2 linked regions of the Homo sapiens genome follow. The protein of the gene in region 1 purifies or fractionates together with the protein of each later gene. This does not show direct contact. Each region holds a gene or a part of one and is shown on either strand. Other genes may lie near its edges.

What was found. The genes of interacting proteins can lie anywhere in the genome.
Region 2: the proteins of PPP1R3B (region 1) and NIPSNAP2 purify together in Homo sapiens (affinity purification with mass spectrometry; 2 studies listed by BioGRID and IntAct, with this or other methods). This does not show direct contact.

What each region holds. Positions count from the first base shown.
Region 1 is NC_000008.11:9,135,716-9,140,658, reverse strand, and holds the end of PPP1R3B (protein phosphatase 1 regulatory subunit 3B), read left to right. Parts: 3' UTR 1-4,404; downstream 4,405-4,943. UniProt on the Homo sapiens protein: Acts as a glycogen-targeting subunit for phosphatase PP1. Facilitates interaction of the PP1 with enzymes of the glycogen metabolism and regulates its activity.
Region 2 is NC_000007.14:55,974,546-55,981,584, forward strand, and holds part of NIPSNAP2 (protein NipSnap homolog 2), read left to right. Parts: intron 1-3,580; coding exon 3,581-3,720; intron 3,721-3,804; coding exon 3,805-3,850; intron 3,851-6,927; coding exon 6,928-7,022; intron 7,023-7,039. UniProt on the Homo sapiens protein: Protein involved in mitophagy by facilitating recruitment of the autophagy machinery required for clearance of damaged mitochondria.

The DNA of each region.
Region 1 (4,943 bases):
TCTTCACTTCTTTCTTAAACAGCAAATCCAGCCAGGTTCAGATTACACAACCAGTGTCTCACTCAAAGGAGCAGTGGTGGCTGGCGCGCTTTCGCACTGTGGCAGCCACGAGAGTCTGTGCACGTCTGTGCTGGAAAGGGTATGGATGGGAATCAAGCCTATGCCAGTGCTGATGAAGCTGGAGGAGTCTCTCCTCTGCTCTCCACTCAGATGTGGGACATCAGTCGCCAAAAGCCACTCAGCCCCAGCCACCTCGCGTGAGACCCTCACTGTTCATTGTGTTCATCTTTGGGTGCTCTCTGCCAGCCAGGCCTTTCCTGCAAGCTGCTGTGCTTCCCCGTCCACGTGTATCTCTGCTGTGACACACTGAGCTGACGCACATTTCCAGTGCAGCTGCAGAAGAGAAATGGGATTGGCTCTTGTTTTCTGCAAGTTCATGTTTTGCATTTTATGTTCTTCCACAATTGATCTGATGTTCAGGAAAAGATAATAAAGGCAAATTAGTTAGTGGTTGAGACAGGCATTTCCTCCTCCCGCTTCTTGACCCCACAGATGTATTCCAGCAGAGAGCAACACACCAGTCATCAAAACCCACTGGCTCCTGTGCGGTGTCACAGATTGCAGGGTTCTGACAAGGCAGGACAGTCAAGAGTGGGGACACTTTCAGCTTCTACTTTTGCCTTCTAGGGGGAGCTTTCTAAGTCCCCACATTTACCCCGAGTCACCGGAAAAATCTGATTTTTCCCCCGAAAGCTCAATGACTTTAACGTGCTTGGCTGGTTTGTCTCATTCTTTATGAAAGAATTTTGGGGCCGGGCGCGGTGGCTTATGCCTGTAATCCCAGCACTTTGGGAGGCCGAGGCAGGTGGATCACGAGGTCAGGAGATCGAGACCATCCTGGCTAACACGGTGAAACCCTGTCTCTACTAAAAATACAAAAAAATTAGCCAGGCGTGGTGGCGGGCGCCTGTAGTCCCAGCTACTTGGGAGGCTGAGGCAGGAGAATGGCGGGAACCTGGGAGGCGGAGCTTACAGTGAACCGAGATCACACCACTGCATTCCCGCCTGGGCAGCAGAGCGAGACTCCGTCTCAAACAGAAAAAAAAAGAGAATTTTGAATCTCCTTTCCCAAAGAGTCATCTTTTCTGCTGTGTTTAGGACATTTGATTTGCATATCCAATATCTCCTCGAAACCTTCAGAAAATGGTTTTATCGTGACTGTGATTCACACTATCTAGAACACTTTACCAGCACCCAGGGACATGGACTTGGGTGTTCTTATTTATGGTGTGTATGTAAAGAGATAGGGGAGAAAAACCTCACCCAAGTTCTTATACGTTATTTTAAACGTTTGCCAACTCTGAAATTTCAGAGATTCATTGTTCTTAACCATATTGGACTAAAGTCTGTTGGTTAGTGCTGTTGTAAAAGAGACCTCTGGGGCCGAGTGTGGTGGCTTATGCCTGTAATCCCTGCACTTTGGGAAGCCAAGGCGGGCAGCTCACCTGAGGTCAGGCGTTCAAGACCAGCCTGGCCAACATGGTGAAACCTCGTCTGTACTAAAAATACAAAATTTAGCTGAGTGTGGTGGCAGGCGCCTGTAATCCAGCTACTCGGGAGGCTGAGGCAGGAGAATCACTTGAACCCAGGAGGTGGAGGTTGCAGTGAGCCGAGATCACGTCACTGCATTTCAGCCTGAGCGACAGAGTGAAACTGTCTCAAAAAAGAGAGACTTCCGGGACAGTCATTATCAGATAGGCCCCAAACCTGTGATTTTTCTTGGGCAAGATTGGTGTTTACTTAGGGGTGCTTTAAAAATATATTTTTACAAGTATACTTGTAGGAAGTTGGTTTTTTATTTTCTATTTTTGTTTGTTTTTGGAGTTTGGTTAAACGACTCTTTTATTTTCTGTTTTGCCTTATCTTACTAAAGTGAAGTTTTCCTAAGGCAAGCAAGAAGAGGAGTGGAAGCACAGTTGCCTGGATTTGGAGGCAGAGTTGTCAGGCTTTTCAAGCTAAGAGTCTTGTGCTTGGATTTTCCAGATTAATTTGAAAAGACCTCCCATTTGTGGCTTTGTACATAACCAACAGGCAGATACTGAGTGCCTTGGCTCCTAGAGTTTTGTGGTTGGGTTAGGTTGTTTTTGTTGTTGTTTTGTTTTGGTTTTGTTTTCATTTCTGAAGTTTAAGATGCCTTGACTTTTTAAATGCTCTTAAGGCTATTCGATGTAATTCTTACTCCTAAAACTGGCTGTTCTTAGCCTGAAATCTAATGCTTTGTTTTTTGTACCTCTCCCAGGTGGGTAACACTCTAGGATGACATGATGTTATAATTTTAGGGGAAATCACATTTTTACCTTATGCTGTTACTGGGCAGAACCACGTTTTATGTAAACATACCAGACATCGGGTAACAGACAGTACTTTAAATGTTATAAATTTGGTGATCAGAACTATTAATAGCATAAATCGAACTCAAATGGAAGCAAAACTGATTTCATGCAGGTCCTGAATTTTACTTTGCCTTAAGAAGTGCCCTCCCCACAATGCAGGAGAGGCACAGAGTGCACTGTCATTGACATGTTACCCGACTAAGGATCACTCTGTTCATAAGAAAAAGGCCTGAAGTGACTCTGTTTAATAAAGTCAGTTTAATTTTATCTAATAATGATCTTAAGACATTCCCATGTCAAAATTTGAAATATGGTAATTCAGTGATAACTATCTCTTCTAAAGCAGCCGTAAACCCTCCCCACTACCCGTCTTTCTCCCAGCTCACCCTGGCTTTTTTTGCTGGGGGTGCTGGATGCAAGCCCCCAGCCAGCACACCTGGGATGCTCACCCTGCCGCACAGTTCAGAAGGCAAGTCCTCACCTGCTCGCAAAGACCCTTCTTCTCCAATAAAAGACTCTACTTGCCTGAGTTTCCTCATCAGGGCTGTCATTCAGTGATGTATGGGGGTCTGAAGAATACTGCCTTCTATCTGTCTTCTGTTTACCACTTGCTCCTCTGCTACCCTCCTGCCGCAAACAGTCTTCTTCCTTTTGGCCCAGTTCTGTCCCGTGAAATTCTCAGAAGGCCTCGGGAGCTGCGCTGATGTATTCTCTCCTTGTTTGATAGCTCATCATCAGTAGATAAGCCTACACACTTCAGAGGGTGACAGGTTTCTTACTTGGAGACTTCACTGCACCTTGACTTGTAGATTTGCCTTCAGACAGCTCTTGGTTATGGTTACAAGTGGCCCCCGAGTCCCAGAATCTTTCCCAGGTTGCCCCAGAAAGACCAGCCACCTGTCACAGGTGCAGTTGTCCGGCAATAGGGAAGCAACTTCATTTTTGTTTTATATTTATTCCCTCAAGTGCCCTGAGGAGCATTTGCAAACTGGGTACAATAAATAAGCTGGATTATACAAAGATATTTAATAAATAAGCTTTCAGTATCTATTGGAAGACATGAAGCATTTGAGTGGGTTTCTTTATTTAAAAAATTATTCTACTGGAGCTGGTGAGAAATAATGAAGCTGTACAGTTCTCCAGAAATTAAAACAATGTCAGAGTCAATGGGAGAATTTAATTTACCTTTAAGATTTCATTTTAATGGTGGCAAAATTATACATTCTTAGAAGATGTAAATTTGGAACTGTTAGGAGATTGCTCTGTGGTTTTGATCTTTTCAAACCATTTTCTTTTTGAAAAAAGGCATTAGTTGTAGTCATGGACATTAAATGGGCCATATATGCTTATCAATCAAAAAAGTGTTCCTTTTTTGGAACTGCCCATTTTCTGGATCTTCCCTCTCAATGGATAGGGGATGAAAACCTTGGTTGCCTTTTATTTGTTTCCTCTTCTAAAATTTCTCACCTGAATGTAGTCCTGGGAGAGTCCCGATCACGTCTCTCCTGACATGTTCACTGAAATCGGAGACAAGAAGTTACATGGATGATGGGATCTTATAGGGTCACACAAAGACAATTTGGCAGCTTATCTTAATTTCCTGCAGTGAGACAACACATGTGGAACTGGGAAGGACAGCTGTTGTTACGAGCAGTTTTTCCTGGTCATGGTTGTAAAGCTCTGTAACCCACATTGTAAAGCCGTGAATGTTTTTAGTCTTGTTGACGAGTTTTTAGAGACTGCTGGACCTCTGAGGGCTTTGAGAGTGCAGCTGTGATGATGTTTCACTATTACTTCAGTGTGAATGTAGAACCAAGGACTCATCTTCATTTTATACCTAAAAGTGCCTTGTCAAGAAATTTTTGCATGTTTTAAAAGATAAATATTTTTGTACACAGAGTTCAAGGGGAAATGCACTTTAAAAATCCCAAGAATGGATGTTCTTTGTGTGGTATGAGAGGTTGGTTTGTATCTCAAAAGCAAAAATGTAATAAAGGAAGACAAAACAAAACTGAAAGTGTCCTTCTATTCTTAGAGCCAGAGTAAGTGGAGAAACATTTCAAATCGATATGTTTCCACATGTAGATCTTAGGTTTCCAAAGAAAAAGCTTGCAGTCAATGGCTGAGTTAAATGTGCAAGGCAGAGAGGAGTTAATTGCTTTAGCATAGCTGAGAAGGTAAGTGCTAGGGAAGAGATACAGGAGCTAGTGTTATTCTGCACCCATTTTTAATGATCCTAGGTCATAGGCATTCTTACCCTGTCATTTGCACTTGAAGTACAGTGCAGACAGACGTATTCAAACAAAAGCAGGAAAACTATAAATGGCTACCATAGCTTTTAACTGCTTGAGCAAACAAACTAAGCAGCAAAACAAAACAGCCCCGGATAGGTAGCGGATAGTCACCCTAAGTGAGATTTCCAGAGCTGCTTTTTTCCAAAGTTCAGGACAAGATGCAGGCAGAGTGGGGGTGGGAAGCTGCATCTAGAAGTTCCATGTCAACAAGTCCTCTGCCACCCTGGGGAAGTGGGCGGTGGCTCCAGTGGAAAGG
Region 2 (7,039 bases), on another chromosome or scaffold:
ATTAGAAATACTATTGTAGAAGGCTGGGCGCAGTGGCTCACGCCTGTAATCCCAGCACTTTGGGAGGCCGAGGCAGGCGGATCATGAGGTCAGGAGATCGAGACCATCCTGGCTAACACGGTGAAACCCCATCTCTACTAAAAATACAAAAAATTAGCCGGGTGTGGCGGCGGGCGCCTGTAGTCTCAGCTACTCAGGAGGGTGAGGCAGGAGAATGGCGTGAACCTGGGAGGCGGAGCTTGCAGTGAGCCAAGATCATGCCGCTGTACTCCAGCCTGGGCAACAGAGCGCGACTCTGTCTTAAAAAAAAAAAAAAAAAAAAGAAATACTGTTGTAGAAAATCATCTAGTGTTTCTAAAGAGATCCCCAAGAAGAGGTTCACACTGGCCCATCAGCATCTGGACTTTTATGTCCAGAAGCACTAAGATTCTGGACATTTATGCTGGCCCTTTGGAATCCCAGTACATTACTGATCTAGGAAAAGGCAGAAAAGATCTATGTGTAGGTCAGTTGGAGAGCAAAAGTAGCTGGGCATGGTGGCTCATGCTCGAAATCTCAACACTTCAGGAGGCCAAGGCAGGAGGATCGCTTGAGGCCAGGAGTTCAAGGCCAGCCTGGGCAACCTGGCAAAACCCATTCTCTATAGAAAATACAAAAATTAACCAGGCATGGTGGTGTGCATATGTTGTCCCAGCTAATCTGGAGGCTGAGGTGGGGGAATCGTTTGAGCTCTGGGGGTCAAGGCTGCAGTGAGCCGTGATCACACCAGTGCACTCCAGCCTGGGCAACAGAGTAAGAGCCTGTCTCAAAAATAAAAAGAGAACAAAAGTATAAAGGGTATGCTGTGATAGACCTGGCCAGAGGTAAGATCACCAATTATAAAAGGGATTGTGCAGAAAGAAGGGGCAGGAATTCAGAAGGCTACCCTTCTGTATGATTCCATACATACGATGTTCTAGAAAAGGCAAAACTGAGGGACAAGGAACACAGCAGTGGTTGCTAGAGATGGGGAGAGGGGTTGATTATAAAAGGATTAACTTCAAGGGGTGAAGAAGCTGTTGTGATGCTGGTTACATTACTTTAGGCATTTGTCAAAACTCAGTACTGTCTGCCAAAAAAGTACATTTTATTGTACATAGATGTGAAAAACCAAGAAGATGAGGGAAACGCTGTTTGTCATTTGATCATGGTTACATAAAGTTCAGAAGAGGGCTGAGCGCAGTGGCTCACACCTATAATCCCAGCACTTTGGGAGGCCGAGGTGGGCAGATCACTTGAGGTCAGGGGTTGAAGACCAGCCTGGCTAACATGGCAAAACCCTGTTTCTACTAAAAATACAAAAATTAGCCGTGCACGGTGGCACACCATGTAGTCCCAGCTACTCAGGAGGCTGAGGCGGGAGAATCGCTTGAACCTGGGAGGTGGAGGTTGCAGTCAGCTGAAATGGTGCCACTGCACTCCAGCCTGGCAACAGAGCGAGATTCTCTCAAAAAAGTGTGTGTGTGTGTGTGTGTGTGTGTGTGTGTAGAAATTGTTCAGATAGTTCAGAAGGTTATACAATGAAAAGAAAAAACCTTTACTCCCACCCCAGGCCCAGTCATGTTCCCCAGATGTCATCACCCTTTAACAGCTCACTCTGTATGTGTATATATAGTGCTGTTCTGTGCCGGCTTTTTTACAGAATTTATCTTGGAGATGTCAGCACATCAGTGCACATAAATCTACCTCATTCTTTTTATCGAGTGCATATTTTCTGACGGGGAGTATTTCCTAATTTACGTGACCAGTCTGCATTAATGGCTATTCAAATGGCCTATGCCAGGAGATAACTGGAAACAAGACAGCAATGAATATTTGTATGCATTCAACTTTGTGCACCTGTCTAAATATAGCTGGCCGTAGGACATAACCGCAAGTGTCATTATTGGGCTGAAGTCATACACAGTTTCCATTTTGATATGGATGATGCCACACTGCCCTCTTGGGAGGTCAACAAATTTGTATTCCTATTAGCTGGCATATGGGAGTTCAACATGCACATAGATATTTGTGAAGTAGGGCCAATTGCAGTGGCTTACACCTATAATCCCAGCACTTTGAGAGGCTGAAGTGGGAGCATTGCTTGAGGCCAGGAGTTTGAGAACAACTTGGGCAACATAGCAAGACCCCATCTCTACAAAAAATTTAAAAAAATTAACCATGCAAGATGACGTATGCCTCTAGTCCCAGCTTCTCAGGAGGCTGAGGTGGGACGATCACTTGAGCCCAGGAATTTGAGGCTACAGTGAACTACAGTGAGCTATCGCACCACCACACACCAGCCTGGGTGACAGGGCAAGACCCAGTCTCAAAAAAAGAAAGAAAAAATCCATGAGTAAAGTATAGTTTGTGACTTGAGTCAAATTTATCCTCACTTTCTGAAAGCATTCACAATAGAAATTTAATTATGAGATGAAAATTAGCAAATTATGTGTTAATAAAGTTGGTATTCTGAGGTTTGTGGGGGCAGTTAAAAAATTTTTGATTTTTAAAGTTAATTTTTACAAATCTTGATTTTTTTTTTGGCCAGGCTCGGTAGCTCCTGCCTGTAATCCTAGCACTTTGGGAGGCTGAGGCAGGTGGATTGCCTGAGCTCAGGAGTTCATGACCAGCCTGGGCAACACAGTGAAACCCCATCTCTACTAAAATACAAAAAATTAGCTGGGTGTGGTGGTGTGTGTCTGTAATCCCAGTTACCCTAGAGGGTGAGGCAGGAGAATCGCTTGAACCTGGGAGGCGGAGGTTGCAGTGAGCCCAGATCGTGCCACTGCACTCCAGCTTGGGCGATAGAGCGAGACTCCATCTAAAAAAAAATTTTTTTTTGATTTTTAAGTTACTTGAGGGGTAAATTTTTTTTAAAGAAAGAATGTATTTCATTTTCCTTGTATTTTTAAAATATTTTTATTGTGGTAAAACATATATACATAAAATTTGCCATTTAAACCATCTTAAGTGCATAATTCAGTGGCATTACTTATATTCACATTGTTGTACAATCATCACCACTATCTGTTTCCAAATCAAATAATATTTTTTAAATTGTGGCAAAATGTACGTAATGTAAAATTCACCATTTTAACCATTTTAAGCATACAGTTCAGTGGCATTAAGTAGATTCACATTTTGGGGAAACATCACTACCATTCATCTTGAGAATTTCTTCATCTTCCTAAACTGAAACTCCTTACCCCAACCTCCCCTTTCCTCACCTCCTGGCAACCTCCGTTCTGCTTTCTGTCTCTGTGGGTTTATCTACTCTAGGTATCCATGTATATTTTTTCTGTGTCAAAAATTGCTTTGAAAAACACATAGTGCAAATTGCAAAGATAAATGTGGGCTCTCTTATAGGAGTGCCACACATTTTACATTTTTCTTTGCTTCTGCTTCTTGGAGTGCATGCTGTTGTCATGGAAAGCAGGCATTCTTTGGTAGCCCAGGTTCTGGAACGGTGCCTAGAATAGCTGCTCACTGTGTTTGCCAGATTAACTGATGGATATATGAAAACAGTATACTGCGTGACAACACCTTTGTTATTCCATAGGACATGGACATCTTCCAGCAACAGATCTCGAGAAGACAGCTGGCTAAAATCCTTATTTGTCCGGAAAGTTGATCCAAGAAAAGATGCCCACTCCAATCTCCTAGCCAAAAAGGAAACAAGCAATCTATACAAATTACAGTGTGAGTGACAGGTTTGCTATCTTCATAGTTGACTTTTTTTCCCCTTTGTTCCTAAGTTTATCGTTGAATTTTCTTTTGTTTCAGTTCACAATGTTAAACCGGAATGCCTAGAAGCATACAACAAAATTTGGTGTGTATACCAAACTATCCTTTACTTGGGGAAAAATAATGACTTTATTTGTTAGTTAATTCCACTAACACTTGATAGCATAGAGAGAGATCTTTCATCCCTCTCTTTTGAAGCTGAACATTCAGAGGCTCTTAAACTGAGCTTCATGTGGGATTGCCGAAGGCGTTTTGATTTTAAGCACTCACACAGCTAAATCATCATATAGGCTATCAGACTTTAGAATGTTACCAGACTCTTGTGTTTGGAGGAACTTTGCCAGGCTGTCTAGTCCATCTACTTATCCAGTGCTGGAGTCCTTTCCACAGACCTTCCTGACTGCCTGTCCTGAAGTAAGTTCCATCTCTGGACAGCTCTGAGTGTTAGGAATAAGAATTCACATCTCTGAGTCCTTCATTGATTCCCCTAAGTAAAACTGCCCTGTGAGAGTCCTGTATGTATTTGAACATAGCTGCCATTTCTTCCCAACTCCTCTGTTCTCCAGGATCCAAGTCCCTTCCGCTGATTCTCCTATGATTTGCGATCTAAACCTGCTTACAGAATTTGTAAACTTTAAGACGAAAGGGGAGAACTAAGCTTACCAGCTTTTAAGTTAACAGAAATAGTATTTTAATGACCCATGGTGAGCAAATGTGAAGAAAAAGGTTTTTAGTTTTGTTTTGTTTTTACCTTTAATATCTACTACGTTCTTAAGAAAGCAAACAATTTTGTCCCTATAATCAGCATACTTTTTAGAAGAAAAACCTTTTGTTTTTTATTGTTTTGTTTTTGAAGATAGCTTATGAAATGTAACAATAGCATTGAATTTCTTGCTCATTCCAGCACATTTCTCTTTATTAAAAAATGCCCTTAAAACAAAGCAGATGTTTATTTCTAAGTCTTTTCTCATAAAAATGGAATTTTTCCCTATGCCGATGTTGTCCTGGATTACCTTTTTTGTCCTGTCTTATCACTTCGTCTCCTGTCTCGGGTTTCTGGCTGTCTGTTCCTATTTCTATTTGATGTTGTGCTCTCACTTCACACCCAGCATGTAGAATCACCTTGCTCTTCCAACTTCCCTGTCTGTGCCACTCACCTTGTTTTACTCAGCCCGTTCCTTAGTTCTCTGTGGTGAATCTGTCACCTAAGCTGTGCATTCTTCATCGGACATGTATTTTGGTTCTCTTGTTTCCTTCTCCATCTCTCTCTCCAAGCCTCTCGAGCCCCATTCCCAAGTAGCTTTTTTTCTGACTACCTTTCTGGGCTCCAAGCTATACCTGTGTCTCCTTCCTGCCCTGCAATACATTACCCCAAAGTTTGTCAGATTGATCTGCTTGAGTTCTGTTTTCTTTTTTCATCACGTTTTTTCTTTTCTCTGAAACTTTCAGCAGCTCCCTGTTTGCAGAACATAAAGACTTAACTCCTGCCTGGTTTTTAGGGGTCCCAATAATGGGATTCTGCCCAACCCATCCAGTTCTGGGTACAAGTACTGCCTGCCTTACAATCTCCATTCAGGTAAGGCCAGGGCTCCTAAGAGCAGGTTTGGGGTCCCCAGCAAAGAGGAGTGGCTACAAATCCATGCGTGACTTTGTGTTGGTGAAAAACCTGGGCCCCGTTGCCAGGCCCCTTTCTGGACCCCACCTGAATCATGTGTACTGGGCTTCCTCCTGGGCACTGCCTCCAATGCAGGGTTGTCTATTCCTGCTCATGTCATGCGACGAAAAGGAAATGTTGGACATACATTTCCCTAGCAGAATCCCTCTTTCCCTGTCCTCGATTTTCATTGATCCCATGTTATTTCTGAACATTCATGAGTCACGCATCAGATACATTTAATATCAGATCCTAATTTAAAAAGTAAATGCTACTCTTCCAAAAGTACACATGATGTGGTCACTATACTGGGTCATAAAGATGTATGGGTTTTCAGTTAGTTAGACTTAGACCGTTTTGGAACTTTTCTCTGTTAACCATTTATGTATCCCTGGTCGTATGGAGCTCCAGTGGTGCAGTCGGTTAGCACATGGTACTTACATACCCTTGGTCCTGTAGCCCCAGCATCTGGTGGTGATCACTAGCTAAATATCAGAGTCAGCAAATAGTGTGAACAGGTTCCATTTCTTGCCCTTGATCCCCTTTTGCATCCATTGTTGAATCTGTATGATACTTTTTCATCATAATTTTTCTATTCAAAAAGTGTGCAGGTTTTAGCTTTTCTCTTGGTGTAAAACAGTTACACTCTTCCCTTTGCCTTTCCCTGTACATTAGAATCTATACCATAGGAAAGCTTCCATGGAACCAAGCTCCACTCTGACACCCCTGTTAAATTCATACACTGCCGTGACCTGTCATGGCTTTGTCCCTGTCCCTGCACAATGCGCGGGAATGAATTGGTTGGTGTGTTCGGTGCGAGACTACGTGACACCCCTCCCATCCCCTTGGCCCATTGAATTGAGTAGAACATAATTTATGCTTCGCATTGTATCTTTAATTTTTATTCTTCTGCCATGTTGATGCCCTTGGGGAGTATTGGAGGTTGGAGTCGCTTCCAGACTATGTTGTGTTCCAGCTGTCTTCTTGCTCCTTCCTGAAGGCCAGCTTGTTCTCTGCTCCTGTTACCTCTGCCTGCTGGTACTGCTTGTGTTGTCTGCCTCTGTCTTGAACATTACTTTCCTCCCTTTCCATCTTCCTTATTTCTTCTGTGTTCTTTTCTACTATTCCCCGTCTCTCATTCTTCTGTCTTTGGAACCAACAGAATGTTTTTTGGTGATGTCGTTTTTTTTCCCCTCAAATGGAAAATAGTAGACCCATAGCTCCCAAAATCCTGGGACCTTTGGTTTTTCTTTATCATCATTATACTGATTGAACAACTCTTCTAGATAGTTGGGGTATCAGAAACCTAAGCTTCTGATCAGCAGGGTGTTGGAATACAACATAATTCAGCTAAAAGGTTAACTCCACATGCCGTTTTATCATGATGTTCTAAGGTCAGTTGTTAGAACACAGAGTAGGTGGTCTTTTTCCTGTTACTGATCAGGTGCTGTCCACCTGGTCAAATTTTGCTGGTTGTTTAATTAGTGTTGCTGTTTCTTCTCTTTAAGTCAAGAGGTGTTGCCAAAGATTCACGAAGATAAACACTACCCTTGTACTTTGGTGGGGACTTGGAACACGTGGTATGGCGAGCAGGACCAAGCTGGTAGGAAGCGAAGTCTT